Homo sapiens: one gene and its partners. The protein of the gene in region 2 interacts with the protein of the main gene of each other region in a pairwise test. Each region holds a gene or a part of one and is shown on either strand. Other genes may lie near its edges.

Region 1 (4,435 bases), on a different chromosome or scaffold from region 2:
AAAGATGTCCCCTCCAGCAAGGTCTCTTACCAGACTCAGAAATCCTGTGGCATGTGATTGCAATTATGTCAAAATGACCCACTTATGCCTAGAAAAAATGTGTCACAGTGTTGATTTGTATGCCTGAGGCTGGCTGACCTATTGGTAACTTTTCTTCTGATTTTCATACATTTCCTTTAATATGCATGTATTTCTTTTTATAAATGGAAAAACATATATAAAAGAAACATGCATTTGTAACTATTACTATATAAGAGAAAAAACCATATGGATGATAGAAAAATAATGGAATATGAAAATTTGATCTATGTAAACATACTGAAAATTTCTATGGAGACTTCTCTAAGATTAAGATCCTAGTTTGCCTGCGATAGTTCTGGGTCATGCCTGTTCTCTTGGCATAATTATTAGTCCTTTCTGTTTCAGCCTCAAAAGTGTCCCAGGTTGGATGTTAAATTATATGGCCAGCCTACTTAAGATACTTTTAGAGAGATTTAAAACATGCTTAAGTACCCTACTTAAGATATCTTTAGAGGTTTTTAATACACGGCATTTAATACAAACTTTATTTAGCTTCTACCCATTCTCAGAGACTTCATGGAAGTTTGCATGCAATTACTATTTGTAATTAAAGTTATTAAAAGAGGATTTCTTATGAGAAAATGATGAAGATGAGGTCATCAATCTCTCAGTAGTTTCCTTTATTCCTGTAAAGAATTCCCTAGTGAGAAAACCCCAAATAACTTGAGGAAGTATTAGGTTGGTGCAAAAGTAATTGCTGTTTTTGCCATTACTTTTTGCAATCACTTTTGCACCAACCTAACAGATAAAGTGACTGTTTGTGGGAGTGAGCGGGTGTGGATTTTCCGTCTGTTTATAACTTTGTGTGAGGAAACACCAGTTTTAAATTAAGGACTTCTTAGGAGCTGTCATTGTTTAACCTGAACATCTGAGTTGTATTACCATTCCTCTTAAGTCAATCAGGAAATATAGAAACAGTTGATGAAAGCTTGCTAACACTGTGCTTACCTGTTTTGAAAACAGTGAACTCTTGTTCTGATTAACGTTTTGCTTTATCAGGAAAACCAGACCTTTTTGGTAATGTTTAACAACTACGACATTTACCCCCTAGACATGAAAGACATATACTTGGAAGTTGTTTAATTATTTGTATGTGCCACTTTCTTCCATAATTTGTTTTCCTGCAGATGGAACTCCCAAAATTATTTCTGCCTTTAGTGAAAAGGTGGTGAGTCCAGCAGAGCCGGTTTCCCTTATGTGCAACGTGAAGGGAACACCTTTGCCCACGATCACGTGGACCCTGGACGATGACCCGATTCTCAAGGGTGGCAGTCACCGCATCAGCCAGATGATCACGTCGGAGGGGAACGTGGTCAGCTACCTGAACATCTCCAGCTCCCAGGTCCGGGACGGGGGAGTCTACCGCTGCACTGCCAACAACTCGGCGGGAGTCGTCCTGTACCAGGCTCGAATAAACGTAAGAGGTGCTTGTCAAATCAGCTCCTCAAAAAAACACACATAACTCATTATAGTGGAGAAGAAGATTTCTGCATGCACCGAGCTGGGTCTTGGAATGCCAGAGCGGATTAACTGTTGCTTCCCATTTCCTACCCTCTCCTTCCTACTCAGGAATGGCACTGACTGGGTTAATGTTGGAAATGGCATTTTGGTTTCTGTAGTCAGCTTGTTCTTTTTTACTCTAGATCTGTTCACCTGATGTTTCCTTTCCTGGTTTATGCTCTGCATGCCCTTTCCCTTCTCCTTCTCTTCGGTTCTTCCACATTCATGGTAAACCTTCATGTACATGGTATTAAACTTACATTCATGCTGCAACGTGATGTAACCTCCATTGTCGTCCTAGATTTTACAGAGAGAGTTAAACAATTGATCAATTGCTGCCAGTGTGTTCACCAAAAGTGCGTGATTGTCCAGTATAGACTAGTTACTTTCTATTAATTAAATTGCCTTTTATCTTGTAATTTTTAATTCAAAACATTTTCATAGAAGTAGCAGATAAAGTGTTTCACAGTTATACATTTGAATTTAAGAAAAGGAAAGAAAAACCTTTGTTGTAGAAAATGCCACATGCAAAAATATTTGTTTAACTGAAAAAGATGTGCTTACATGAATATAATCTACATTTTTAACTCAAGGAAAAGTGTACCCATTTCCCTACATGAGATGTACCCTTAAATTATTTTCAAGAGTTTCTTTGTGTCTCTCCAGGGCCTGCAAGCATTCGACCAATGAAAAACATCACAGCAATAGCAGGACGGGACACATACATTCACTGTCGTGTGATTGGCTATCCGTATTACTCCATTAAATGGTACAAGAACTCTAACCTGCTTCCTTTCAACCACCGCCAAGTGGCATTTGAGAACAATGGAACTCTTAAACTTTCAGATGTGCAAAAGGAAGTGGACGAGGGGGAGTACACGTGCAACGTGTTGGTTCAACCACAACTCTCCACCAGCCAGAGCGTCCACGTGACCGTGAAAGGTAAGCCCTGTTCTCCTGGTTCCCACACAACTCATTCCATAGCCCGACTACTTCCCAGACCAATGATTTGAAGTCGGGTAATCCAAGATCTGCTTATTTAGAGCAGGATAATTGTACAGGCTGAAGAATGACAGGGAACATGAGATGTCCTCTTTACTACTGACTGAATCTTCACAGGAACTTTAGTTGATCTGATTTTCTCTCCAGGTGGAATTTTGGCTTGGTTTTCCAGAGGGCATGTGTTGTTAACAATACAACAGAAAAAAAAGGAGCACATCATTAGCTTCATTATCTAGTCATCTCTCAGATAATTTTTAAATAAATAACCTTCTTTTCCTAAAACCTCCTAAAAGCAAGGTCTCTTAGAACTTCACTGGAAGGGATTTTCTGTATTGGATGAGGATTTCAAACAAACGTCTTATCTTCTGTAGATGAGCAGGTCAAAGCAACAACATAGAAATTATATGTTTAAAGGATGCCACAGAACGTTTTCCTCATTAAATTATTCTTTGCATCATGACATGGACTGTCATGGAATCTACCTGTCAGGATGATCTTTAGAGATCCTGCAATTTGAATTGACTACAATCTCCTTACCAGAAAAAAACAATAAGGTGATCAGACTCATCCAAGGATACGCAGACTTTTAGTGGCAGAGCCTCAGAAAGACTCATTTCTTCTATTCTACAAGTCAGTTTCCTGAGCTGAATATGAAATAAAATTGTTTTAATTATGTAAGGAATCTACCTGAGGTGGGTCCTAGGAATAGAACTAATATGTTATAAAACTATTTCCGAAACCTGTGGGTGTTGCTTCTAGCCACATTGAGCTGCCTGTCTGAGGTGTCCAAGTTCTCTCTCCAGGAACCAATAAGTGGCTTTTAGTTGCCCTTGTTACAAAGTTGCATAGGTTTCCTGTGGTCTTCCCCAAGCTTCTTTTCCCACCAACCCTGTGAGTTTTACTTTTGTGAGAACGCATACAGACACACACACATGGAAATAATAATATGTGTATACTATTATTACGGGGCATATATATTGCATTACATTATATATTATAGAATATGTATTGTGCATTGTATATTAGATATGCCTGCACATAATTATAAATCGGTTTTTAATAACCATATGTCTTGAGAATTTCCTCAAATCACTAGATATTCTTGGTAAACCAGGCTGCATAAAGGTTCATTTGGTGGTTGTGTTTATTTATTTAATCCTCATTTACAGAACATCTGCTTCATGCCAGGCACTACTCTAGACACTGAGGAATACAACAATGAAAAAGGTCTGCAAGGTCCTTTCCTTCATTGACTCTCTTCTCAGTCAGGAGAGACAAACAATAAACAAATAAAACAAGTGAATAAACCAGAAAACACCTAATGGTACTCCATACTATGCAGAGAATTAAAACATGGCAGTATCTTAATGGTTCATTGCAATAGTCAGATGCCATATCAACACATTTTCTGTACTCTGTCATCTTAAAATTCATTGGTCTATCATACCCTTGGAAGGAATGTTTTACCCACACATGATTTTGTAACATAAAAAGTTGATCATTTGGAAATGATTGGTTCACTGTGTTACACAGATCTTCCAAATGTTGATACAATTTGTTATACAATATCAAAATATCACAACTACTAACATTACCATGATCTCATCAGAAAGTCTTCAAGTAAACTGTCAAGTTCATGCTGATGGATGCAAGTTTTCTAAAATTCTATTCTTTCTTGAAAGATTCAATTTTATTATTTATAATAAACACCATCAATTGTAATTGTAGGAGTGATGGGCTCATTTATCTGTAAGAAATTGTTTGACAAATAGAAAAGACCGCATAACCATCGTTTTTAGGTAGCCATTCTTTTAAGAAAGAAATGGAATTCCATGAAGAAAAGCAGCTGGTC
Region 2 (4,435 bases):
GATGAAGGCATACATCAGTTGGGTCCATTGCTCATTCACGTTCTGTCTGTTTTTTGCATCTTCTCCAGGAAAGAAAGAAATCTCGTTTTGGGAATGCTTTCCACCTGTGTCGGGAAGTTCTGCGTTTGACTAAGCTGGTGGTGGATAGTCACGTGCAGTATCGGCTGGGCAATGTGGATGCCTTCCAGGTAAGGTTAGGTATTCCCAACCCCTGCCTGGGTGAGGACGCTGGAGGAAGCCTGTGCTGACCGTGGAGCTGGTTTAAGCTCCAGGTCTGATGGGGCAATTGTATTGCAGCTGGCAGATGGATTGCAGTATATATTTGCCCATGTTGGGCAGTTGACGGGCATGTATCGATACAAATACAAGCTGATGCGACAGATTCGCATGTGCAAGGACCTGAAGCATCTCATCTATTATCGTTTCAACACGGTGAGACCTTGACTTTACTGACTTTCTTTTTTTTGAGACAGAGTCTTACTCTTGTCTCTTGGGCTGGTGTGCAATGGCACGATCTTGGCTCACTGCAACCTCCGCCTCCTGAGTTCAAGCAATTCTCCTGCCTCAGCCTCCCGAGTAGCTGGGATTACAGGTGCCCGCCACCACGCCTGGCAATTTTTTTTTTGTTTTGTTTTGAAACTGAGTCTTTCTCTGTTGCCCCAGCTGGAGTACAATGGCACGATCTTGGCTCACCACAGCCTCCGCCTCCCGGGTTGAAGTGATTCTCCTGCTTCAGCCTCCCAAGTAGCTGGGACTACAGGCGCGCACCACCATGCCTGGCTAGTTTTTGAAATTTTAGTAGAGATGGGGTTTCACTGTATTGGCCAGGCTGGTCTTGAACTCCTGACCTCAGGTGATCCACACTCCTCGGCCTCCCAAAGTACTGGGATTACCAGCGTGAGTCACCGTGCCCAGCCTCACTGGACTTAACTTTCTCAGATCTTTTTTCATGTATACATTTAGACAGGGCTCTTTCCAGGGACCTATTTGGAGAGCAGCTATGACTGTGTCCTTACTGCTCCTTTAAATTCACATGGGCGATCTTAGTTCCTGGTTTTTGCCTTAAGGTTTCTCATTTACCCTTTTGTTTTAGATGTTGAGGTCCCAGAGTTTTTTTTTCTTTTTACCCCTCTACTGCCATACCTACATTCCTCTGTATGTATATTATACATATATGCCCCACCTCTGCCCAGGTTTCTATTGTTGTTTAAATGCATTGCTAACTTGTATTCTTAACTTCTGCTTGGGATCGTAGGGCCCTGTAGGGAAGGGTCCTGGCTGTGGCTTCTGGGCTGCCGGTTGGCGAGTCTGGCTCTTTTTCATGCGTGGCATTACCCCTTTATTAGAGCGATGGCTTGGCAACCTCCTGGCCCGGCAGTTTGAAGGTGAGTGGTTTTCTCTGTGTCCAACTTCTCCTGTTATTGCTTCAAAAGTACCTGCCCCTGTTTGAGTCTGTTCCCTGCTCTTGTATGAGCACTCTTCCTACTGGATTGCCTTTAGGTCCAGTTCTGAAATGAGTCTGACCTAGTATTCTATTTCTTGGGCTTCCTTCTGGGGCCTTGAGAGGCAGTCATGCATTTGCAGGAGTGGAAATTCCTCAGAAGCATAGTTGTGAATGTTTAAGGTAGCTCGTCTTTTTGCATATGCTGGGCACAGGGACGCTTTGTTAATACCTAATTTTATTAATAACCATAATGAGTGAGGAGCATGAAGGTAGAGACCCTTATTGAAAGCAAGGAATCTTCCTTGTAATCCCCTTGGGACACTCTACTTCCAGGTCGACACTCAAAGGGGGTGGCAAAGACAGTAACAAAGCAGCGAGTGGAGTCACATTTTGACCTTGAGCTGCGGGCAGCTGTGATGCATGATATTCTGGACATGATGCCTGAGGGGATCAAGCAGAACAAGGCCCGGACAATCCTGCAGCACCTCAGTGAAGCCTGGCGCTGCTGGAAAGCCAACATTCCCTGGAAGGTGGGTGTCTCTTTATTTCCTTGGAGGCGTAAACATCCGTCTTTAGGGTAGGATTACCACTTCGGGAATCATTAGGGGGCTATCTGGCTCCAATCTCTTTTCTTTTCCCTTTTAGACAGGGAAAAGAAGCACCATGTTGCTTAGGCTGGCCTCAAGCTCCTGAGCTCAAGCGATCCTCCTTAGCCTCCTGAGTAGCCGGGACTACAGATGTGTGCCACAGTGCCTGGCTGGATCCTGGCTTGATTGTGCTTTTTGGACTTTTAGGTCCCTGGGCTGCCGACGCCCATAGAGAATATGATCCTTCGATACGTGAAGGCCAAGGCTGACTGGTGGACCAACACTGCCCACTACAACCGAGAACGGATCCGCCGAGGGGCCACTGTGGACAAGACTGTTTGTAAAAAGAATCTGGGCCGCCTCACCCGGCTCTATCTGAAGGCAGAACAGGAGCGGCAGCACAACTACCTGAAGGTTGGGCAGAGTAGGCTGGGCTGGGTGTGAGTGGTGGGGGAGTGGGCAAGAGGGAGGACTGTAGAGTTGTGACTGAACCTTGTTCTGGCAGGATCGGGCTGTAGCGGGAGGCTAATTTCATGTCCACCTTACAGGACGGGCCTTACATCACAGCGGAGGAAGCAGTGGCAGTATATACCACCACAGTGCATTGGTTGGAAAGCCGCAGGTTTTCACCCATCCCATTCCCCCCACTCTCCTATAAGCATGACACCAAGTTGCTCATCTTGGCATTGGAGCGGCTCAAGGAAGCTTATAGGTGAGTAGTAGGGTAGATAGGTTCCTGCTGGGAAGGTGACAGCAGGGAATGGCGTCATCCTCAGAGTCCAAAGAAAGAAGGTGTAGCCCCAGTCTTTCCTGGTTTTACTTCCTCCTAGTTTTCCCATTCACCCTTCCCATTGCTTTTGTCAGTGTGAAGTCTCGGTTGAACCAGTCTCAGAGGGAGGAGCTAGGTCTGATCGAGCAGGCCTACGATAACCCCCACGAGGCGCTGTCCCGCATCAAGCGTCACCTCCTCACACAGAGAGCCTTCAAAGAGGTGAGTGAGGCCTCCCAAGTTTTCTTTTTGGTTCTACCAAAGGTAGCAGTTGCCTTTGGTTCTACCAAAGGTAGCAGTTGGTGGATTGGTGTGAACCAGCCTCCTTGTCCCACAGGTGGGCATTGAGTTCATGGATCTGTATAGCCACCTCGTTCCAGTATATGATGTTGAGCCCCTGGAGAAGATAACTGATGCTTACCTGGACCAGTACCTGTGGTATGAAGCCGACAAGCGCCGCCTGTTCCCACCCTGGATTAAGCCTGCAGACACAGAACCACCTCCGCTGCTTGTTTACAAGTGGTGTCAAGGTAGAACTTTCATGAGATCGCCCTGTGAGGAACGGGGCAGGAATTTAGTTCTACGTCAAAAATCTCATCTGGGTAGCATGATTGGTTTACTCTCTTGATGCGTGGTAGTAAAGGGAAGTAGTGTTCGTGTTAAACTGAGGAAAAGCCCATAGTCAAAGCAATCCAAATGAATACGTGGAATCATAGTGGGATTGGTTATGGAAGGTAATGATAGTTCCTGTGGGGCTAGTCTTGCAAGAGGATTTCTAACCTGCTGGAGACCTGCCTTGCTACTCCTCAGGCATCAATAACCTGCAGGACGTGTGGGAGACGAGTGAAGGCGAGTGCAATGTCATGCTGGAATCCCGCTTTGAGAAGATGTATGAGAAGATCGACTTGACTCTGCTCAACAGGCTGCTGCGCCTCATCGTGGACCACAACATAGCCGACTACATGACAGCCAAGAACAACGTCGTCATCAACTATAAGGTGCGTCTCAGGCGCAGTAGCATGGAATTGTGTGTGGAGTGCTTGTCTGGCCCACTGACTCAGAATTTGCTGAGGAGGAGGCTGGGTGCGGTGGCTCATGCCTGTAATCCCAGCACTTTGGGAGGCTGAGGCGGGCAGATCACGAGGTCAGGAGTTCGAGACCAGTCTGGCCAACATGGTGAAACCCCGTCTCTACTTAAAAAAATACAAAAATTAGTTGGGTGTGGTGGTGGGCGCCTGTAATCCCAGCTACTTGGGAGGCTGAGGCAGGAGAATCACTTGAACCCGGGAAGTGGAGGTTGCAGTGAGCTGAGATTGCGCCAGTGCACTCTCAGCCTGGGTGACTGAGCACAACTCCGCCTCGGGAGTGGAAAAAAGTAGAATTTGCTGAGGGGAGAACAAAAGAGGTTAACTCTGGAGAATCCTGGGGCATGGCTCACATTCTTAAGAATTGTAGTTCTTTCTTTCTAGGACATGAACCATACGAATTCATATGGGATCATCAGAGGCCTGCAGTTTGCCTCATTCATCGTGCAGTATTATGGCCTGGTGATGGATTTGCTTGTATTGGGATTGCACCGGGCCAGTGAGATGGCTGGGCCCCCTCAGATGCCAAATGACTTTCTCAGTTTCCAGG
Region 3 (4,347 bases), on a different chromosome or scaffold from region 2:
ACAAAGGGGAGGCAATCAGGGATCATAAAGGAAGCTGCTCCTTAAAGTTGCTGTTTGGGGAACTGTGATGGGTCTCAAAACGTGGTCTTGAGACCAGCAGCATCAGCACATTCTCAAGCAACATCCCAAAACTACTGAATTGGAAACTCTAGGGATGGGGCCTAGAAATGAATGTTTAAACAACCCCTGCAGATGATTCTGATGCACATGAATGTTTGAGAACCGCTGGTTTAAGATAAGCTTTAGATGCCCTAAAATACACCTGAGAGTGTTTATAGAGAATCTACTAATGAATTCATGGAGGAGACAATTTATTTCCATAACATAAACCTGCTTCTTTTTTATGTTTTGTTTTTAACACATAATTGTAAGCCTACTTCTTTTTAAACATACAAACGTGCCTTCTAGTTTGTGGTGAAATAAAAAGGATTATTTATTTGCTTTCACTTCTTTGGATTTTAGAGAATACTATCTTGGTAAGTACAGTCTCCAAAAGTAGCTCAATAGTCCTGTAGACATGGTAAGTTTTTTTTAAAAAAGAATGTACAACTTTAATATTAATCAAAAAAATACAAATTAAAATAGCAATGAGATATCATTTCTCAACTAAAAAACTGGCAAAGTTCAAAAAGAATAATGTGCATCAATAAGGAGGGTATAAGGGGGAAAATAAAACACACACTCCAAGTAGAAAGATAAAGTACCAGAATCTTTCTGGTAACACAAATCAGAAGCCTTAAAAATGAGTATATCTTTGACTCAGCAATCCCATTTCTAGGGATATATCTTAGAAATAATTAATGATATATGCAACAATGAACATATAAAGATGCTAAATATCATTTATAATTTTAAAATTAAAAATCTTAACTTTGAGGGAATTGTAAAGTCAATCAGTGTGCCCATATGACAGAACATAATAAAAATCAATCAGTTCAAGATTTTTTCCAGTTTTTAAAAGGAAGATTTATTTAACAAGTTTCACTTAGTACAATACATCTAAATGGAAATCACAATACAAGGAAAGATTTAAACCAAAGCCTCAGATTTTCATACAAACGACACGACCAAACTTCTAAAGTATTGGTATTACATCTTAAAATTGTCCCGTATCCTTAAAAAAAAAAAAAGTGTACACTCACGTGCCTTACAGGATATTAAACCAAAAAGCTAGAATTAACAAACATGCCAAATGTTTTCACTTTGAATCGTAGACACAGCTCCTATATTTGAGTTTTACAGAAAGGCATGTTTCTCAACATGCATCCGAAGTTTTCAATGTATTTGTGGTATAAGAGCAACATTTAACATAAGTGAAACTGCATTAACCTAAATACGCTTACTGCTTAGGTACACTCCTACAACATAACTAACTTGAGGAAAGCTAAAAATTGTTTTAACAGTTATGGTCAATACTGAACTTTGTTATTATGTCCTAGATGAATGTTTCAGTGTTCAAAATTACTGAGCTTGAAGTTTTAAAATAATCTCAACTTCCACTTTACAGTAAGCATGAATCACAAGCCTGTAATGCAAAACTGTTAAACTTAACTCGTTTTCTTAAAAAAGGAGAAAGAAAGATAAAGAAAGAGAAGCTGACCAAGAGTGATCAGAATCAATTATATTTCCCATTTACCAATCATACTGGATATACTAAACATCCCTCCCATTCTATTCAACTCCCACAAATGTACAGCTTTTATATCTGGAGTAGCTATTTAGTGCTCCTTCTCTACCTAAGCAAGGTTTGACTGATAGTCACTGGAGTTTTCCTGCAGAACTTGGTCATATCCACTCATACTGCTCTGACCACCATAACCACCTCCATAACCACCACTCAGCTGCTGGCTAGCAGGACCTCCATAACTAGACTGGTTGGATAAGCCCATCCCTCCCATCATTTGGCTACCATAAGCGCCACCACTTGCCCCTGCTGTAGAATTCAAAAAAAGTTCTACATAGCTGTGATCGTAAGCACCCCCACTTGTTCCTGCAGTAGAATTTAAGAAGAGCTCCACATATCTGTGTTGCATATTAGCTTTGTCTTTTGCCATAGCTGCCACAGCATCTTCATGAGTAGCAAATTCAACATCTGCCTCACCGGTAACTCTGCCATCGGGTCCAATTTCAATATGTACTCTCATGGGATTAAGAGGTGAGAAGAAATTATAAATATCATTCTCAGTGGCTCTGTAAGGTAACCCCCTCATGTGTACACAGTGCCCTGTGGTGCTCTGGAAACTGGACCCACCATCTCCGTATCTATGATCAGACATTCCTGAAAAACAGTAATTGAGGTCTCTTCCAAATCTATCAGACCCAAAGCCATATCCATCATTATAGCCACCATAGTCATCATAGCCTCCATACCCTCCACCATAGGCACCACGCCTCATCCTTTCAAACCCAGCTCCTCTGCCAATGCTATTATACCCTCTGCCAGCCCCCGGCCTATCATAGGGACCTGGCCGCTGCATAGCCATGAGCTTTCGAGGGGGATCATAGTGGGTTCGAACTTCAGCTCGGCTACTCTTGAAGATCTCAATGTACCTGTGCCCTATTCTTTCCTTGTGTTTCTTTAAGGCCTTCTCAGCTATCTCCTGTGAAGCAAACTGCACAAAGGCTTCCCCTGTGCTTCGCCCCTGAAAGTCCACTGGCAGTGTCATCCCATTTGGCACAATTTCCAACCCTGAAAAGAACTGAACAATCTCTTCCTTGCTACAGCCAAATGGGAGTCCTCTAAGCCGGACGAAGCCATCGTTGGCAGTATCAGGGCTATTCGGACCTGTATGCTTCAACACCCAATCCATTTCAACACTGTTAGACTTGAATACTTCAACGTATCTGTGTCCCATGGTTTCTCTGTCCTTCTTCAAAGCCAATTTCACTTCCTCTTCAGATTCAAGTTCAACAAATGCTTCACCACTTGGTCTGCCTTCTCTGGTGTAGATGAAACGAATACCTGATGTGCCATTTTGGATCTTGCAATCAGAGAAGAAGCGCATCACTTCATCGGCTGAGCAGGACCAGGGTAGGCCCCTGACCTTCACCACGAACCCCTCCCTGCCTTCCGTGCTCAGCATCATGGTGATTGTTGGGCTCTTGGTGGCAAGTTTGGCTCAATGCAATTTTGGTGTAGCTGAAAAAAAAAAAAAGAAGACTACTGTCATGGAAAAATGCTCGTGATATAGTAAGAGAAAAAAGCAAACTATTAATAGAAAATTCAATTATGCTGACAGCTTTTCTGTAAGACGTCTGTATAAACAGAGAGTTCACCAAATTTTTAACTCATTCATTTTTTAGCAGTTATTTATTCAATGCCTATTACGTGTTAGATACCATTAAAAATTAACAGCAATCGGCCGGGTGCGGTGGCTCACGCCTGTAATCCCAGCACTTTGGGAGGCTGAGGTGGGTGTATCACCTGAGGTCAGCAGTTCGAGACCAGCCTGGTCAACATGGTGAAACCCCGTCTCTACTAAAAATACAAAAAATTGGCTGGGCGTGGTGGCAGGTGCCTGTAATCCCAGCTACTCGGGAGGCTGAGGCAGGAAAATCGCTTTTATGTACCCAGGAGGTGGAGGTGAGCCAAGATCACGCCACTGCACTCCAGCCTCAGCGACCAGAGCAAAACTCCGTCTCAAAAAAAAAAAAAAAAAAAAAAAAAAAATTAACAGCAACAAATCAGTGGGAGATGTCAACAAATAAAAGATGGCTATATCTGAATATATAAACATAAAAAACTTCACTAGATCAAAAGATTAAACAACAATTAAAACACAAACAAAACACAGGTTATGTAAGTTCTTTATATAATATCTTCATTATATAAAAATGTATGCAAATCAATAAAATCAGGGAAATATTTGGGCTCCAGAGATAAATGAAAAAAAGACATTATTGGGAATTCACACATTCATTTTAGAAACATTTTTTAGTTGCCATGTCCAATATTCGGCTCTGGCATACAAGAATCAATAAGCCCAGAATGGGCTTATGGTCCTACAGGAGCACCGAATGTCATTATTAAAGATGTAAATGCAAATATACATTATACTTGCCATGACCCTCTGAGTGGAGTGTAAGCATAGTATCAAAGAGGGACTAGTTGATCAGTTCTATTGGTTGGAGGCCAAATGGTTAAATGAAACAGACTAATCTGCCCAGGGATCCATAAACATTTTTTTTTCTTAATTATGATGAAGCACAAATAGGAGAGGGAAAAGCAAGTGAAAAGACTGGCAAGGCATAGATCAGATCCCAAAGACTTTGATATACAAACACTAAGCGCCTTTTAAGACTTTTAAACCGGGGAGTATGTAGGGTGACTTCACCAAAACTCTTTCA
Region 4 (4,435 bases), on a different chromosome or scaffold from region 2:
GAGATGAGGAACAGCCTTCCAGATTTTTCTTGGGTAGCGTGTGTAGGAGGCCAGTGTCACCAGTAGCATATGTGGAACAGAAGTCTTGACCCTTGCTATCTCTGCCTAGTCCTAATGGCTGGCTTTTCCCAGGAAGGCTTCTGCTTCCATGGACTGTTAGATTAACCCTTTATTTAGGTAAATGAGGGAACCTACTTTATAAGCATAGGAAAGGGTGAAGAATCTTTTAAGATTCCTTTACTCAAGTTTTCTTTTGAAGAATCCCAGAGCTTAGGCAATAGACACCAGACTTTGAGCCTCAGTTATCCATTCACCCATCCACCCACCCACCCACCCATCCTTCCATCCTCCCATCCTCCCATTCACCCATCCACCCATCCAGCTGTCCACCCATTCTACACTGAGTACCTATAATGTGCCTGGCTTTGGTGATACAAAGGTGAATAAGACATAGTCCTTTCCTTTGCCCCCAACCCTCAGACCAGAGATGAACATGTGGAATGACCTAAACACCTGGAACAGGTGTGGTGTATGAGCGGCAGGCCTCTGATGAGAGGGTGGGGGATGGCCAGCCCTCACTCCGAAGCCCCTCTGAGTTGATTGAGCCATCTTTGCATTCTGGTCCCTGCAGATGTCTCTGCTATCTCCAACCTCATCAGGAAGCATGTGTCTGAAGCCCGGCTGGTGGAAGACATAGGGCATGAGCTGACCTATGTGCTGCCATATGAAGCTGCTAAGGAGGGAGCCTTTGTGGAACTCTTTCATGAGATTGATGACCGGCTCTCAGACCTGGGCATTTCTAGTTATGGCATCTCAGAGACGACCCTGGAAGAAGTAAGTTAAGTGGCTGACTGTCGGAATATATAGCAAGGCCAAATGTCCTAAGGCCAGACCAGTAGCCTGCATTGGGAGCAGGATTATCATGGAGTTAGTCATTGAGTTTTTAGGTCATCGACATCTGATTAATGTTGGCCCCAGTGAGCCATTTAAGATGGTAGTGGGAGATAGCAGGAAAGAAGTGTTTTCCTCTGTACCACAGTACATGCCTGAGATTTGTGTGTTGAAACCAGTGGTACCTAACACATTTACATCCCAACCTTAAACTCCTATGCACTTATTTACCCTTTAATGAGCCTCTTTACTTAAGTACAGTGTGAGGAACAGCGGCATCAGGATCACTTGGGAACTTGTTAGAAATTCAGCAACTTGGGCCCAGCTCAGACCTACTGAATCAGAATCAGGAGCAATTCTCTGGTGTGACTGTGTCACAGCCAGGTATCAACTGGATTCTCATACATAGGAAATGACAAACGTTTATGGATGGATAGTCTACTTGTGCCAGGTGCTGAGATTTGTTTTTTGTTTTTTGATTTTTTTTTAATCACTGTGACCTCATTTAATTCTCAAAAAAAGATGAAAAAATGAACACTCAGGAATGCTGACATGAGATTCAGAATCAGGGGTTTGGGGCTTCAAAGTCCATCCTCTCTTTATCCATGTAATGCCTCCCCTTAGAGATACAACATCACAGACCTTGAAGGCTGAAGGGGATATAAAAGCTGTCTGGCCAAGTGGTCTCCAAGCTTGACAGTGCAGCAGAATCACCTGGGGATATTATTAAAAATAAACATACTAAGGTTTGGCTTCAGGGCCTGTGAATCAGAATTTCTGGAGGTGAGGCCTTGAAGTCTGTATTTCTATTGCATACTTTGGACACAGTGGTCTATAGACTAGAGTTTGGAAATGATTGCGCTCATTCAGATTCTCTTCTGATGTTTGAATTGCTGCCATCATATTTCTAGTGCTCTATTTCCTCCTGCTCATTCTGTCTTGGATAACTTATCATAGTACTAGCCTACTCAAAGATTTAGAGCCACAGTCCTGAAAGAAGCCACTTGACTCATTCCCTGTAGGTTCAGAATAAATTTCTTCTGCGCAGTGTCTGTCATAGCTTTTTTTAAATTTTTTTTTATTTTTGATGAGACTGGAGTTTTGCTCTTATTGCCCAAGCTGGAGTGCAGTGGTGCGATTTTGGCTCACTGCAACCTCCACCTCCCAGGTTCAAGCGATTCTCCTGCCTCAGCCTCCCAAGTAGCTGAGATTACAAGCATGTGCTACCACGCCCAGCTAATTTTGTATTTTTAGTAGAGATGGGTTTTATCCATGTTGGTCAGGCTGGTCTCGAGCTCCAGACCTCAGGTGATCTGCCCGCCTCGGCCTCCCAAAGTGCTGGGATTATAGGCCTGAGCCACAGCGCTCAGCCATAACTTTAATTTGAAAATGATTGTCTAGCTTGATAGCTCTCACCACTGAGGAAATGTTCTCTGGCAAAAACGGCTTCTCTCCCAGGTAACTCTGAGAAAGTGTTATTAAGAAATGTGGCTTCTACTTTCTCTGTCTTACGGGGCTAACATGCCACTCAGTAATATAATAATCGTGGCAGTGGTGACTACTCTCGTAATGTTGGTGCTTATAATGTTCTCATCTCTCTCATTTTCCAGATATTCCTCAAGGTGGCCGAAGAGAGTGGGGTGGATGCTGAGACCTCAGGTAACTGCCTTGAGGGAGAATGGCACACTTAAGATAGTGCCTTCTGCTGGCTTTCTCAGTGCACGAGTATTGTTCCTTTCCCTTTGAATTGTTCTATTGCATTCTCATTTGTAGAGTGTAGGTTTGTTGCAGATGGGGAAGGTTTGTTTTGTTGTAAATAAAATAAAGTATGGGATTCTTTCCTTGTGCCTTCAGATGGTACCTTGCCAGCAAGACGAAACAGGCGGGCCTTCGGGGACAAGCAGAGCTGTCTTCGCCCGTTCACTGAAGATGATGCTGCTGATCCAAATGATTCTGACATAGACCCAGGTCTGTTAGGGCAAGATCAAACAGTGTCCTACTGTTTGAATGTGAAATTCTCTCTCATGCTCTCACCTGTTTTCTTTGGATGGCCTTTAGCCAAGGTGATAGATCCCTACAGAGTCCAAAGAGAAGTGAGGAAATGGTAAAAGCCACTTGTTCTTTGCAGCATCGTGCATGTGATCAAACCTGAAAGAGCCTATCCATATCACTTCCTTTAAAGACATAAAGATGGTGCCTCAATCCTCTGAACCCATGTATTTATTATCTTTTCTGCGGGGTCCTAGTTTCTTGTATACATTAGGTGTTTAATTGTTGAACAAATATTCATTCGAGTAGATGAGTGATTTTGAAAGAGTCAGAAAGGGGAATTTGCTGTTAGAGTTAATTGTACCCTAAGACTTAGATATTTGAGGCTGGGCATGGTGGCTCATGCCAGTAATCCCAGCGCTTTGAGAGGCTGAGGTGGGTAGATCACCTGAGGTCAGGAGTTTGAGACCAGTCTGACCAACAAGGTGAAACCCCGTCTCTACTAAATACAAAAAATTAGCCGAGTGTGGTGGCACATGCCTGTCATCCCAGCTACTTGGGAGGCTGAGGCAGGAGAATCGCTTGAACCCAGGAGGCAGAGGTTGCAGTCAGCCACGGTTGCGCCATTGCACTCCAGACTGGGCAACAAGAGTGAAAACTCCATCTCAAAAAAGAAAAAAAAAGAATTAGATATTTTGGATGAGTGTGTCTTTGTGTGTTTAACTGAGATGGAGAGGAGAGCTAAGACATCAAACAAATATTGTTAAGATGTAAAAGCACATCAGTTAGGTATCATTAGTTTAGGACAAGGATTTCTAGAAAATTTTTAGGAACAGAAAACTTTCCAGTTCTCTCACCCCTGCTCAAAGAGTGTATGGCTCTTACATTATATATAACTGCCTGACTTCATACAGTATCAGTACTTAGATCATTTGAAATGTGTCCACGTTTTACCAAAATATAATAGGGTGAGAAGCTGAGATGCTAATTGCCATTGTGTATTCTCAAATATGTCAAGCTACGTACATGGCCTGTTTCATAGAGTAGTCTATAAGAAATTGATGACTTGATTCATCCGAATGGCTGGCTGTAACACCTGGTTACGCATGAACACCTCTTTTCAGTTGTCTCAAGACACCTTTCTTTTCTGTACTTATCAGACAAGGACTGAAAGGCAGAGACTGCTACTGTTAGACATTTTGAGTCAAGCTTTTCCTTGGACATAGCTTTGTCATGAAAGCCCTTTACTTCTGAGAAACTTCTAGCTTCAGACACATGCCTTCAAGATAGTTGTTGAAGACACCAGAAGAAGGAGCATGGCAATGCCGAAAACACCTAAGATAATAGGTGACCTTCAGTGTTGGCTTCTTGCAGAATCCAGAGAGACAGACTTGCTCAGTGGGATGGATGGCAAAGGGTCCTACCAGGTGAAAGGCTGGAAACTTACACAGCAACAGTTTGTGGCCCTTTTGTGGAAGAGACTGCTAATTGCCAGACGGAGTCGGAAAGGATTTTTTGCTCAGGTGAGACGTGCTGTTTTCGCCAGAGACTCTGG
Region 5 (4,435 bases), on a different chromosome or scaffold from region 2:
GACATTAACATGAGCCTATAGAAGAAGTCATTTTTCTTTCTTGTCCCATTCTGGGATGGGGAATTTGTCCTTACAGTCCCACTCTGGAGCACTGTCTGAAGATGAGGAATCATCTGTGTACGGATAAGTACTGTTCTTTTCCCTCTTAGATCTACAATGGCTAAAAATTATTATCTCATGCTTGGGAAGAATGGGGATCACAATGGCCTATGAGATAGTCTGCCTGGTCAATGCTGAGCTGTACCCCACATTCATTAGGTGAGTGCATTTTCCTTAGAATGACGAGGGTGGGTGAGACATTTGTTCATTGGCTGGAACCACCACAAGTGCAGACAAAGGATATCTTACCTTCAAAACACAGTGTAAGGGAAGGTGAGAACACGTAAAGGTCCAGCCAGGCCCAGCAGTTCACCTCTCACACTTACAGGCTGGGGTAAAATACAGAGGCCATGGTGAGAACAGAAAATTGAATTGCAAGACAGGGATTACCCAATGGCTACAGGGGAGATTGTTGTGGAACAGCACAAACAGGTCCATAGAAACAGCTTAGGGAAGCCAGGTGATGGAAGTAAAAAGAAACAATTGCTCCTCCCATCATTAAAAAAAAATTTAAGGTTTATACAAAACAAGAATGACAGAATATGAATGGAATTATGTATATATATATATATATAAAATATTGTGCATTGAAAATAACGTGAATGTTTTTTTAAACTCTTGAACATTTTATTTTTGGTGTTTTTTTTTTATTTCAATAGGTTTCTGGGAAACAGGTGGTATATGGTTGTATGAATAAGTTCTTCAGTGGTGATTTCTGAGATTTTGGTGCACCCGTCACCTGAGCAGTGTACACTATAGCTCTTGAACATTTTAATTATTTGAGGAAGTGTTTATTCAGGGGTGGATGGGAGATAACTACTGCACTGTGATAAGTTAACAAGTTAAATCAGTTTCCTGCATTCTAGGAATCTTGGCGTCCACATCTGTTCCTCAATGTGTGACATTGGTGGCATCATCACGCCATTCCTGGTCTACCGGCTCACTAACATCTGGCTTGAGCTCCCGCTGATGGTTTTCGGTAAGAAATCTTCACAGATGTCTTTAAGTGAAAACTTATTTTTCTAGAGACCTTCACTTCTCTTCTACTTCATTCAAAACAGGTGTCATGCCTATTAGTAACTACTAATTACTACTCATAGTAGTAATGATGTGTCTGTGGCTTGCGTTCTTCCTGGATGTGCCTAGTAATTAGTAATATTATTAGTATTAGTAATACTAATCAATAATACTAGTTCAGTATTCATAATATTATCATCACTACTAATACTCAAGTATGGGACTCCTGCCATAGAGGCAGAATGTTGAAGAGAAGAATGAGAAGGAAGAAAGTTTCCCAGCAGCAGGCCCCTAACTCTCTCTCTGCTGATTTCCACCCTTCCTGAGGTCTCTGTCAAAGAGTTAACTCCTCCATGCCCAGAGGTGGTAAAACACAAGCCCTTTTACTTCTTACTTCAAAGAAGGGGGTTAAAATTTTGCAAAAGGCAATTTCAAAACCCAGAGGAAATAAAGACCCACATTAAGAAAATGCATCAGCATAATGGAGCACCTGTGTTGATGCACCTGGAGCAATTAGATTTCAGGAGCGTCACATAGCACTTCCCTTCTGCTACTGCCAGCAGGAACACACCAGCACTGAGCCTTCTCTGGTTAACTGGAACACCTCAATGCACCCATTTCAGGCTCCTTTGACACCCATTCTGAGCTGCTTTTAATTGAATATGTGATGCTTTTTCCCATGGGCATATAGCACTCAATTTAGGGGAAGAGAAGAAGAAGAGATTTCACTCTCAGATGTACATGAGGGTGTAAAGGGAAAGGAAATTTAAAAATCTCAGGACCCCCAGAATCCTTATGCAAAAGGGAAGACTAAGCCTGGAGGTTGAGTCATGCAACACCCTCTTCCAGATGAATAGCTGTTACAAGCATTATACATCATGCCTCAGTTATCTACAAAGGACCACCCCTGCAGGTCATTCATAAGTAAATTCTTTGCTGGCCTCCTGTAGACAAGAATTTTAGGTCTACAATCTAAGCTTAGCTTCTAAAACTAAAGTCTGCTGATTCCACACTGATAATGTTGATTGCAAGCTTATTTCCCAATGTACAGAATAAAGACAAGATCAGTCATTCCTCCACCTACTCAGAGAGGCCTGCATAATTGATTCTTTTCTTTACTCCCATTTTCTCTTTAAACATTCACCTTATCATATGTAAAATGTAAATTTAACTGGGCACTAGTTAAAGTCTCACAAGGATGGAAACATTCCTCTACGGCCTACCTGCCCCTCTCCCTACCTGCCTCCCTACTTTAAGGAAATGTATAAATACCAACCTCCTGAAAGCCTCTTTGTAAAAACAGCCACAGATGTGTCTGTGGCTCATTGCTTTTCAGGGACATGCCCTAAAGCTGACTTAATAAACCTCGACTGACTGGGACATTTTCCTCAGTCACTCATTTCCGTTATCAGGGGAAGCTCCCACCACTTCACTCCTAAGGCTGCCCAATGCCCCACACAGCTACCCTGCTCATTCCTTTTCTTCCCCTTCTTCTCACGGAATTTGTGAGGGGGAAAATTTTCCACCACTCTAGATCTGCCAGCAAAAGTTCCAAACCACTGATGGAACTTACCTGCAAAACAGATGCAATGAATTCCTCCATGATCCAGTTTAATAGCAATAAGATGGCCAAAGTTGACAGAGCACAAGCTCTTTATCCTGAGATAACTTGGCCACAGAGTAGCTGGTGCTACTCCTGAGACATATGTGACCCCTATTTCTTTCTCCCCCAACACTGGCTAAGGAAACTGTCCTCAGAACCCTCTTTTCATCATGAGGAGGTACCCATCAAACCCTCTGTCCTCCTTCCTGCCATGGAGGAAGTTAGAGACCACTCAATCTTGGCCACTCCCTTAGGTGGACAGTGGGTGACTAATGGGTCAGCAGGACATTTCTGGATAGCAGATGGTTACTTCGTTACTGGAAAGAGGTCCTGACCCAGACCCCAAGAGGGGGTTCTTGGATCTTGCACAAGAAAGAATTCGAGGTCAATCCATAGAGTAAAAGGAAAGCAAGTTTATTAAGAAAGTAAAGGAATAAAGAATGGCTACTCCATAGGCAGAACAGCAGCATGGGCTGCTCAGTTGAGTAACCTATAGTTACTTCTGGATTATATGCTAAACAAGGAGTGGATTATTCGTGAGTTTTCCAGGAAAGGGATGGGCAGTTCCTGGAACTGAGGGTTCCTCCCCTTTTCAGACTATATAGGGTGACTTCCGGACATCACCATGGCATCTGGCATCTGTAAACTGTCATGGTGCTGGTGGGAGTGTCTTTTAACATGCTAATGCATTATAATTAGTGTATAATGAGTAGTGAGGATGACCAGAGGTCACTTCCATCGCCATCTTGGTTTTGGTGGGTTTGGGCCAGCTTCTTTACCACTTCCTGTTTTATCACCAAGGTCTTTGTGACCCTGTGTCTTTTGCTGACCTCCTATCATCCTGTGACTAAGAATGCCTAACCTCCTGGGAATGCAGCCCAGTAGGTCTCAGCCCCATTTTACCCAGCCCCTGTCCAAGACAGAGTCACTCTGGTTCAAACAACTTTGACAACTTCATGTTTCTCTAAGTACTATTTAACAAATAGTACTTTATTGACCCTTGTTCCTGCCTGACACCTTCCTGCAGGAAAGATAAAGGATTATAACTACATTTCAATATTTAAAGTAAACTCAAAGACAATTCTAATTTTATTCTTGAAAGTAATTTCATATTCTTCCCTCACTAACCTTTAGTATGAGTGGCTAGTGGAAAGAAAACCTAATAGTTTTTCATTTTAACTTCTTTCTCTTTCTTTTCCACACAATAATGGTGTGCTAATTGTGGTCTTGAAATAGCCATAAAACGATAATCAAAGAAGACTGAAAGTCAACACACTGGAAAATCCTGGCTGAAAGAGCACTGGAAAAATCAACAAGGATTATTCTGGTTAACTAGGCCTGTCTTTGCAAATATAAAATGCCAAACGAATGGTAATTTTATTAATCAGTTGTATTCATCATGATTCACTCACTTCAGAGATTCAGATGCCAGCTGAATGTGTTTCTTGTTTGCATTACTTACAATACAATAACCAAGTGAATCTTGGGAGGCTTGGAGACATTTTGAGAGGTTAATTATTTAATAGGCACTTCCACTGTATATACCATGTGCCAGGCACTATTCTAAGCCTTTGACAATATTAATTCATTTCAGCCTCATAACAAGCCTGTCTCTGTTACCAGAAAGGGGTCCCAATCCAGACCCCAAGAGAGGGTTCTTGGATCTCACACAAGAAGGAATTCAGGGCGAGTTCACAGAGTGATGTGAAAGCAAGT
Region 6 (3,215 bases), on a different chromosome or scaffold from region 2:
GGGCAACAGAGCAAGACCTAGTCTTTAAAAAAAAAAAAAGGAAAAAAATTATTTTATAAAATCTTGTAGGGAGGGAGATTTCATACTTGGTAATTTTTTTGTACCTCAGGTTTATGCATTTTTAAAAATGTTCTTTTACATACACACATGTATACCTTTATACAATATAATCTTGAATATTTGTGTCATTTCTCTCTTCCTTTTTGCTTGGCCATTCCCTTTCTCCCTTCATTACTCAAGTCATTCTTGTTCCACCGTCTCCATGTACGTCTTACCAGTCTCGTTGGTACCCTTTCACGCTTTTTCCTCAATTTAATAAACTATTGCCTCTTTCCTTTTTGTTGATTAAATACTATCTTCATCACTCTTTCCTCTTTCTTCTGGTTTGCAAGTTCTCTCATCTGTTTCTAATTTGCTTTTTTATTAAACTTTTATTTTTAGATAATTATAGATTCACATGCAATTGTAAGAAATAATACAGAGAGCCAGGTGTGGTGACTCACATTGTAATCCTAGTGCCTTGGTAGGCCAAGGTAGGAGGATTGCTTGAAGCCAGGAGTTCAAGCCAGCCTGGGCAACATAACGAGACCCTGTCTCTACAAAAAAATGCTTTTAAATGAGCCAGGCATGATGGCATGCACCTGTAGTCTAAGCTCTTCAGGAGGCTGAGGTTGGAGGATTGCTTGAGCTCAGGAGTTCCAGGCTAGTGAGCTGTGATCACACCACTGCATTTCAGCCTAGGCAACAGAGCAAGACCCTGTCTCTGGAAAAAAAAAAAAAAAAAAAAAAAAGAATACAGAGAGATTCCATGTACCCTTTACCTACTTTTCCACAATTGTGCCTTGATTTTTTTTTAATGGAAAGTTGAAAGTGAAGGTTAGGCCAGGCATGGTAGCTCATGCCTGTAATCCCAGCACATTAGGAGACCGAGGTGGGTGGATCACCTGGGGTCAGGAGTTTGAGACCAGCCTGGCCAACGTGGTGAAACCCCATCTCTACTAAAAATACAAAAAAGTAGCCAGCTGTGGTGGCGTGTGCCTGTAATCCAGCTACTCGGGAGGCTGAGTCAGGAGAATCCCTTGAACCCGGGAGGCGGAGGTTGCAGTGAGCTGAGGTTGCGCCATTGTTCTCCAGCCTGGGCAACAAGAGCGAGACTCCGTCTCAAAAAAAAAAAAAAAGTGAAGGTTAGTGTTATAGCTCTGGGTGAACATGTGTATACATTTAAAATAAAATCTTCTAAGAGAAGTTTTACATTGAGTAATTTTTTTCTTTTCTTCCCCCCCATTCTAGTTGGGTATCCCTGGTCAGTAAGAATTATGAGATTGAACGGACTATTGTTCAGCTAGAAAATGAAATCTATCAAATTAAGCAGCAACATGGAGAGGCAAACAAAGAAAACATCCGGCAAGACTTCTGAAAAGACAATTTAGCAGGTAGAAGAAAAGTTGGGCTTTCACAAAAGGCATCTGAACTTTTAATGAACTTTGAAGGACAACAGCATCTTCCCAAAACCATTGATGTTTAAGTGTTTAGAAATCATAGAAGGTGTAGGCTGCTGTGGTAATTCTATTTGTATATCTCAACAGAATTAAAATGTCTAGCTTGGTGGTATTTTTATAGCCATAAAAGAAAATCTTTAGGCTTTCAAAATAAGGATGACTTTAGAATAATATTGTGTCATAGAATTAATTTTCAGCCATGTGGACCATATTTTGTATCCAAGGATCCTTATTTAAAGCTTTCAACATGTACAGGAAGTTGGAAATTTTTGGTTTATGACTTTGTCTAATAAAGAGATAGTTCTAAACACATTCTTGATCACCAAACAACTTCAGAAAGACAGTGACTGTACAGTTATCATTATCATCATCATCGTCATCATCATAGGTAACAGTTATATCAAGCTTAATATGTGCTGAACATTGTTCTGAACACTTTAGGTAGATGAACTAGATGTATGTGAATAAAAATTATTTGGTCCTCACAAAAACCTCAGGAGGCGGTTACTGTTTTTCTCATATGTGGACATGTAACAGACACCAGTTAAATAACATAACTTGCCAGAGTTTTATAGCTGAAAGTGTCAGCTTTTTTATAGAAAGTTGTCAGTCAGGTTTTGAACCCAATAGTCCAGCTCCAGAGTTAATGTTCTTACTTCTCTACTTGTAAGGAATTAAATTGTGTAAAAGATTCCTGCCCAATTCAGAAAAAATATTTGCAACATATCAAAAGGTAGTGTTGCTAGGTGTGGTGGCTCACGTCTGTAATCCCAGTGCTTTGAGAGGCTGAGGCAGGAGGATCACTTGTGTCCAGGAGTTCAAGGCCACCATAAGCTATGATTGTGACACTGCACGCCAGCCTGGGTGACAGAGCAAGACCCTGTCTCAAACGAAGCAAGGTAGTCTTAATGTATAAAGACTGACTGAAAATTATTGCAAGGTCAGTGGCTCACACCTGTAATCCCAGCACTTTGGGAAGCTGAGGTGGGCAGATCACGAGGTCGAGAGATCGAGACCATCCTGGCCAACATGGTGAAACGTCATCTCTACTGAAAATACAAAAATTAGCTGGGCATGGTGGCATGCGCCTGTAGTCCCAGCTACTCGGGAGGCTGAGGCAGGAGAATCGCTTACACCCAGGAGGCAGAGGTTGCAGTGAGCCGAGATTGCACCACTGCACTCCAGCCTGGCGACAGAGTTAGACTCTGTCTCAAAAAAAAAAAATTACTGAGAGGTGTTCATCTCAATAACTGATAAATATAAATTTGAAAAATCTAAAAATTATTTTTCAATTTTGAAAAAATAAAAGGATGTTCATTATAATACAAAATAAACCTAGAACTTTTTGATCTGTGATATTGATAAATGGTTAGTACTTTCGAAAGTACCTTAATACAATTGAGAGCCCCATTTCTTTTTGTTTGTTTGTTTTGTTTTGTTTTGCACTTGTTGCCCAGGCTGGAGTTCAATGGTCTGATCTTGGCTCACCGCAACCTCCACCTCCTGGGTTCAAACAATTCTCCTGCCTCAGCCTCCTAAGTAGCTGGGATTACAGGCATGTGCCACTTCGCCCGGCTGATTTTGTATTTTTAGTAGAGACGGGATTGCTCCATGTTGGTCAGGCTGGTCTCAAACTCCCTACCTCAGGTGATCTGCCCAAGTCAGCCTCCCAAAGTGCTGAGATTACAGGTGTAAGCCACCACGCCTAGCGAGAGC
Region 7 (4,435 bases), on a different chromosome or scaffold from region 2:
TGAGGACATTGAAACCATTTGCATCTCAGTTTTCTCATCTACAAAATGGGAATAAAAATGTGTAGCATGCAAGAAAGTTGTGAAGATTAGAGGTACTATGTAAGGCACTTAGTAGCAGTTGCTATAATAACAACCAATACTTATTAGTGCCTTAGCCAGGCATCTTTCTAAGAACTTCTTATAAATTTACTCACATAAGACAAAATATTATGAGGTAGGTACGATGATTACCGTACTCATTTTACAGATGAGGGAATCAGGGCAAGAAGAGGCCACACAGTTGAGAATTGCTGTAGCTGTTAGAAGTGGTACATTTGTAGTGAAAGAAAAGAATACATAAAAGATATAAGCTCCTGGATGGCATAGGTCTGTGGGAATTAGGATATAAGCTCTTTTCCTTACAGTGAGGCAACAGACCCATCCAGGCCAAACTGCCTCACTATTTTCTCTGTGGCCTTTGTGTGGACTAGGGGCAGCTCACAGTCCCACTTTTGCAGGGACATCTCCCTGAGTGACTTTAACACTGATTCAGGAAGGCTTTAGTGCTAGCCCAAAGAACCCTGATTTAAGGGTCAATTTCCTTGGAAGAGAGGAAAACCAGCCAAGCTGTCGTAGGAAATCTTCTTCTTTTACGTGAGGGTGGAGTTGCACCACTTCTTTTCAGAGAGTACTAGGCAGGACTTACGATGTATGACTCAAAGAGCAGAAAAAGACCTCACAAACCCTAACACCTCTCCTTCTAGCCCAGAAATTCACCAACTTGCTGGACAAGGCTGCCTTAATTAACTTCATTAGCAGAACCCCAACCATCAAGCCACTTACCAGATCAGCTTCTCCTCAGGGACCCCATAGGGAGGTGCTGCAGGACCAAGGGTTCCCAAGGAGGTGGGATGGGGTGGGTGGCTGGGAGGCAGGGCCAGCTTGCAGGTATTAAGACTGGCAGACCAAGGCGGGCAGGCAGCAGTGTTGTGGGAAGGGGATCTGAGGAAGCTTCAGAGGGGACAGTCCTTGCTGCCAGCTTCCCCGTGTCAGCCAAAACTGCCTACTTACTATACGAAGAGATTCACAGTGTCATCAGACCAACTTGTCCCTCACATGGACATAAATTTCTCTGTGTATGAATATGGTATGTGTAAATATTTTAGGTGAACCCTGTTAATATTGCATGACCTGTTTTATGCCTTAGCTGACTCTGGCTTGTAGTTTTTGACAGATTGAAAGTATTTTGTGTATAAGGCCACTGAAAAGAGAGAGACACACAAGGTTCTGAGTTAATCTTGTGACTTTCTTTAAAATACTGGCATTTTTTTTTCAAGACCATTTATTGGTTGGATATAATTTAGATAATTTGGGGAAGAGGTTTTAAATCATTTCATAATAACAATTTGTTTTCCAAAATGGCCAGGATATAAATTAATCTAAAACACCTCATGCTGTTTTCTATAAGGGAAATTTAGGTTGGCTGATACTTTTATATTACACAGAAAGAGTATTGAGTATCTATGGTTGTTCCCCATGTATAAGGGAAGGGAAAAGATCTAGGACCATTTTAGAGCCACCTGATAGCCATCTGTTTTAAAAGTTCAGTAAATCCGTGGGCAAGTGTAACCGTTTTCTCTAATTCTGATTGCAGGTGCTTCAGTTTAATGAAGTGGGAGCCAATGCAGTTACCCCCATGACTCCAGAGAACTTTACCAGCTGTGGGTTCATGCAGCAGATCCAGAAGGGTAGTTATCCTGATGCGATTTTGCAGGTATCTGACTTACTGGTCCAAATTTCTTTTGTGGTTTATTTTTGCAATCTTCCTGTCTTAAAGCCACAGTGTCAGACTGGGAAGGAAGCGAATATACCCTCCCCCATTCACAGAAAGAAAACTAAGACTCAGAGTCATTAAGAAAAACATGTCCTAAGATGATACCCATAACGAGAGACGAGCCAGGACAGAATCCAGACTTCATGAGTTTTAGGCCAAGCCTATTTACTTCTAAATTCTCTCATGCCTCTCTGTCATTGGTGAGGTATGTGTAATTTATCATAAATCCACAGTAGAGACTCCTAGAATACACGTGTATGGATAAGGATTTCCAGAGGAGAGAGGGTAGGGACTGACAATTGATTGAGAAATGGCAGAAGGCTGGGCCCAATGATTGCATGAGAAATCACTGACCTTCAGGTAACTTTCCTTCTATCTATCTAATCTATCATCTATCATTGATCTCTCTCATCTATCTTACCTATCATACATCTATCAATCCTATCTATCTATATATTTTATGAATCATCTATTTATCATCTATCTTCTCTGTCATCTGTCTATCTTATCTATTTATCAATCAGCTATCTCGGGGAGTAACACCTTTCCTCAGTACTCCATTTCCTTAAATGTCAGCTATCCAGTTAAATTATAAAAACTGAGTATAGACTGCTCCTGTTGGCAACCAACTTCCACAGTCATGCTTATGAGGTAGATTATGAAGAGGTATCTCCCAAAGCTCTCTTCCTGGGCACTCTGAAGCTCCTTCTACCCATTGCCCAGGGAATTATGGGCTAGAGGAGGTGGACAGGATCCTGATCATGTGGAGATTCCGCCAGGTGTTCTGTGGTACCTGGCAGTCCATCAGGAGGGCTCTGTCCCCTGCCCTAGGACAGGCTGCTGCTGTGACCAAGCCCTGTGTCTGACATGGTGCTTACAAACTTCAGTTTGAGAACTGAAATAACCATTCACTTTTGTGGTTTTCTAAAACCCATGTTTTCCACTGCATAGTTTGCCCCATAAAATAGGTATCTAGAGAAGCTATATGAACTTTGTAAGATCATTACTAAGGCAACATTTCCTCCCTGCCAGCTTTACTGAGGTATAATGGACAAATAAAAATTGTACATGTTCAAGATGTACAGTGTGATGACTTGCTATACCTATACATTGTGAAATGATTACAGTCAAATTAATGAGCACATCCATCACTACAATTACCCACCATTTGTATGTATGTGTGTATGTATAGTGAGGACACTTAAAAAATATATTCTTCACAAATTTCAAGTAAACAGTTTTATTAACTATAACTATTAATGAACACAATCTTATTAACTATAGTCATTATACTGTACATTAGATCCCCAGAACTTATCCATCTTATAAATACAACAAAAATTCCTTAGAGACTTTGAAGTTTAGGAAACTGAGAAGGGGCCTTTCTTCTAGGCTGTTGGTCACCTGGTTAAATCCAATCCATAGACAGAGCAAAATTGGAAAGAAATTAAAATTCACCTTATTAGTTTTAATGTACCACATCCTTATCGAAATGATTTTCTCAAAGATTCCTCTAATGTACCAAAAATAAAGTATGTATTAATATAGCATTTCATGATTGTATTCAAAAACTATTACCATGGCTTAAGAACTATCTTGTTTAGTAGTTCTGTGTTATATATAAAGAATTCCTTCTTTCTTTTCAAGGCACAAGCTGCAGATAAAATCCATTCATCCTTCCGCTCTCTCAGCTCTGCAATCAATGCATCCACAGGGAATTATTTACTGGAAAGTGTCAATAAGCTGTTTGGTGAGAAGTCTGCGAGCTTCCGGGAAGTAAGTGAAACCTGTAATTGAAATGGCTGGATCCCAAACAAGTAATGAAGTCACTTTCAAAGCAGTTCTCTACAATTCAACAGTTCATAAAAGCAGAGTTGGAATTCCACACCAGCTCCCTAGGGCTGGCCTTGCGTAACAGCTGCCCTTCCTGTACCCTCTGGGGCTTCCTCCTCTTCCCATTGCAAATGTCCCAATCTCAGAGTCATAAATCAGGAAAACAAATGCAACTGTTTTCCAGAGACACTATCCCCCAAGTCAAACCTCTTTCCTTTTATTCTGTCTCTATAATGCAAGGAGTACAAGAGGGTGGATAGAGTTGGGGAGTAAGCGTGGACAAAGGGGTCTGCACTCTTTCCCCCTTCAGCACCTGCCTTCCATAGCCAACCTCCACTCCCACCCTACCCCAGGTCTCCTAATTTCAATGGGAAGACCATAATTCACCATTATGCCATGGCTTGTTTGGTATGTATTTTATGTAGCCTTTGTCATTTTCTTGCTTTAAAGGAATATATTCGACTCTGTCAGAAATATTACTCCTCAGAACCCCAGGCAGTAGACTTCCTAGAATGTGCAGAAGAAGCTAGAAAAAAGATTAATTCCTGGGTCAAGACTCAAACCAAAGGTAAATCCAAGAAAATATTTTATTTACTTCTTTCCAGTTAGAAAACTCTGATCTATCTTTTTCCATCCATGAACTTAGTTAGCCCTCACCCCTTTACAATTTGTCCAACTGCAGTTACTTTGGTGGATGTGAATTTATTCCTGATTAGCTCAGTGGTGTTTTAACTGAGAAGAAATAATTGAGGCCTACTAATAGAAGACATATGTTTAGTACTTAAATAT

The links.
Region 1: the proteins of PRPF8 (region 2) and DSCAM interact in a two-hybrid assay, tested with the Homo sapiens proteins (one large-scale study listed by BioGRID and IntAct).
Region 3: the proteins of PRPF8 (region 2) and HNRNPH2 interact in a two-hybrid assay, tested with the Homo sapiens proteins (one large-scale study listed by BioGRID and IntAct).
Region 4: the proteins of PRPF8 (region 2) and ABCA1 interact in a two-hybrid assay, tested with the Homo sapiens proteins (one study listed by BioGRID).
Region 5: the proteins of PRPF8 (region 2) and SLC22A2 interact in a protein complementation assay, tested with the Homo sapiens proteins (one large-scale study listed by BioGRID).
Region 6: the proteins of PRPF8 (region 2) and BCAS2 interact in binary tests that used the Homo sapiens proteins (3 or more experiments, as listed by UniProt).
Region 7: the proteins of PRPF8 (region 2) and SERPINB2 interact in a two-hybrid assay, tested with the Homo sapiens proteins (one study listed by BioGRID).

Annotation. Positions count from the first base shown.
Region 1 is NC_000021.9:40,336,189-40,340,623, reverse strand, and holds part of DSCAM (cell adhesion molecule DSCAM isoform CHD2-42 precursor), read left to right. Parts: intron 1-1,208; coding exon 1,209-1,505; intron 1,506-2,247; coding exon 2,248-2,523; intron 2,524-4,435. UniProt on the Homo sapiens protein: Cell adhesion molecule that plays a role in neuronal self-avoidance. Promotes repulsion between specific neuronal processes of either the same cell or the same subtype of cells.
Region 2 is NC_000017.11:1,674,515-1,678,949, reverse strand, and holds part of PRPF8 (pre-mRNA-processing-splicing factor 8), read left to right. Parts: intron 1-68; coding exon 69-188; intron 189-297; coding exon 298-432; intron 433-1,255; coding exon 1,256-1,385; intron 1,386-1,777; coding exon 1,778-1,974; intron 1,975-2,238; coding exon 2,239-2,445; intron 2,446-2,579; coding exon 2,580-2,743; intron 2,744-2,895; coding exon 2,896-3,022; intron 3,023-3,137; coding exon 3,138-3,330; intron 3,331-3,610; coding exon 3,611-3,798; intron 3,799-4,269; coding exon 4,270-4,435. UniProt on the Homo sapiens protein: Plays a role in pre-mRNA splicing as core component of precatalytic, catalytic and postcatalytic spliceosomal complexes, both of the predominant U2-type spliceosome and the minor U12-type spliceosome.
Region 3 is NC_000023.11:101,410,728-101,415,074, reverse strand, and holds the end of HNRNPH2 (heterogeneous nuclear ribonucleoprotein H2), read right to left. Parts: intron 3,140-4,347; coding exon of another isoform or gene 3,087-3,139; coding exon 1,737-3,086; 3' UTR 942-1,736; downstream 1-941. Other genes in the region: RPL36A-HNRNPH2 protein, read right to left, coding at 3,083-3,139. UniProt on the Homo sapiens protein: This protein is a component of the heterogeneous nuclear ribonucleoprotein (hnRNP) complexes which provide the substrate for the processing events that pre-mRNAs undergo before becoming functional, translatable mRNAs in the cytoplasm. Binds poly(RG).
Region 4 is NC_000009.12:104,812,542-104,816,976, reverse strand, and holds part of ABCA1 (phospholipid-transporting ATPase ABCA1), read left to right. Parts: intron 1-631; coding exon 632-834; intron 835-2,501; coding exon 2,502-2,550; intron 2,551-2,745; coding exon 2,746-2,859; intron 2,860-4,254; coding exon 4,255-4,403; intron 4,404-4,435. UniProt on the Homo sapiens protein: Catalyzes the translocation of specific phospholipids from the cytoplasmic to the extracellular/lumenal leaflet of membrane coupled to the hydrolysis of ATP.
Region 5 is NC_000006.12:160,238,117-160,242,551, reverse strand, and holds part of SLC22A2 (solute carrier family 22 member 2), read left to right. Parts: intron 1-149; coding exon 150-258; intron 259-965; coding exon 966-1,078; intron 1,079-4,435. UniProt on the Homo sapiens protein: Electrogenic voltage-dependent transporter that mediates the transport of a variety of organic cations such as endogenous bioactive amines, cationic drugs and xenobiotics. Functions as a Na(+)-independent, bidirectional uniporter.
Region 6 is NC_000001.11:114,566,332-114,569,546, reverse strand, and holds the end of BCAS2 (pre-mRNA-splicing factor SPF27), read left to right. Parts: intron 1-1,290; coding exon 1,291-1,417; 3' UTR 1,418-1,990; downstream 1,991-3,215. UniProt on the Homo sapiens protein: Required for pre-mRNA splicing as component of the activated spliceosome. Component of the PRP19-CDC5L complex that forms an integral part of the spliceosome and is required for activating pre-mRNA splicing.
Region 7 is NC_000018.10:63,893,631-63,898,065, forward strand, and holds part of SERPINB2 (plasminogen activator inhibitor 2), read left to right. Parts: intron 1-822; exon of another isoform or gene 823-906; intron 907-1,633; coding exon 1,634-1,753; intron 1,754-3,460; coding exon 3,461-3,589; intron 3,590-4,096; coding exon 4,097-4,214; intron 4,215-4,435. UniProt on the Homo sapiens protein: Inhibits urokinase-type plasminogen activator. The monocyte derived PAI-2 is distinct from the endothelial cell-derived PAI-1.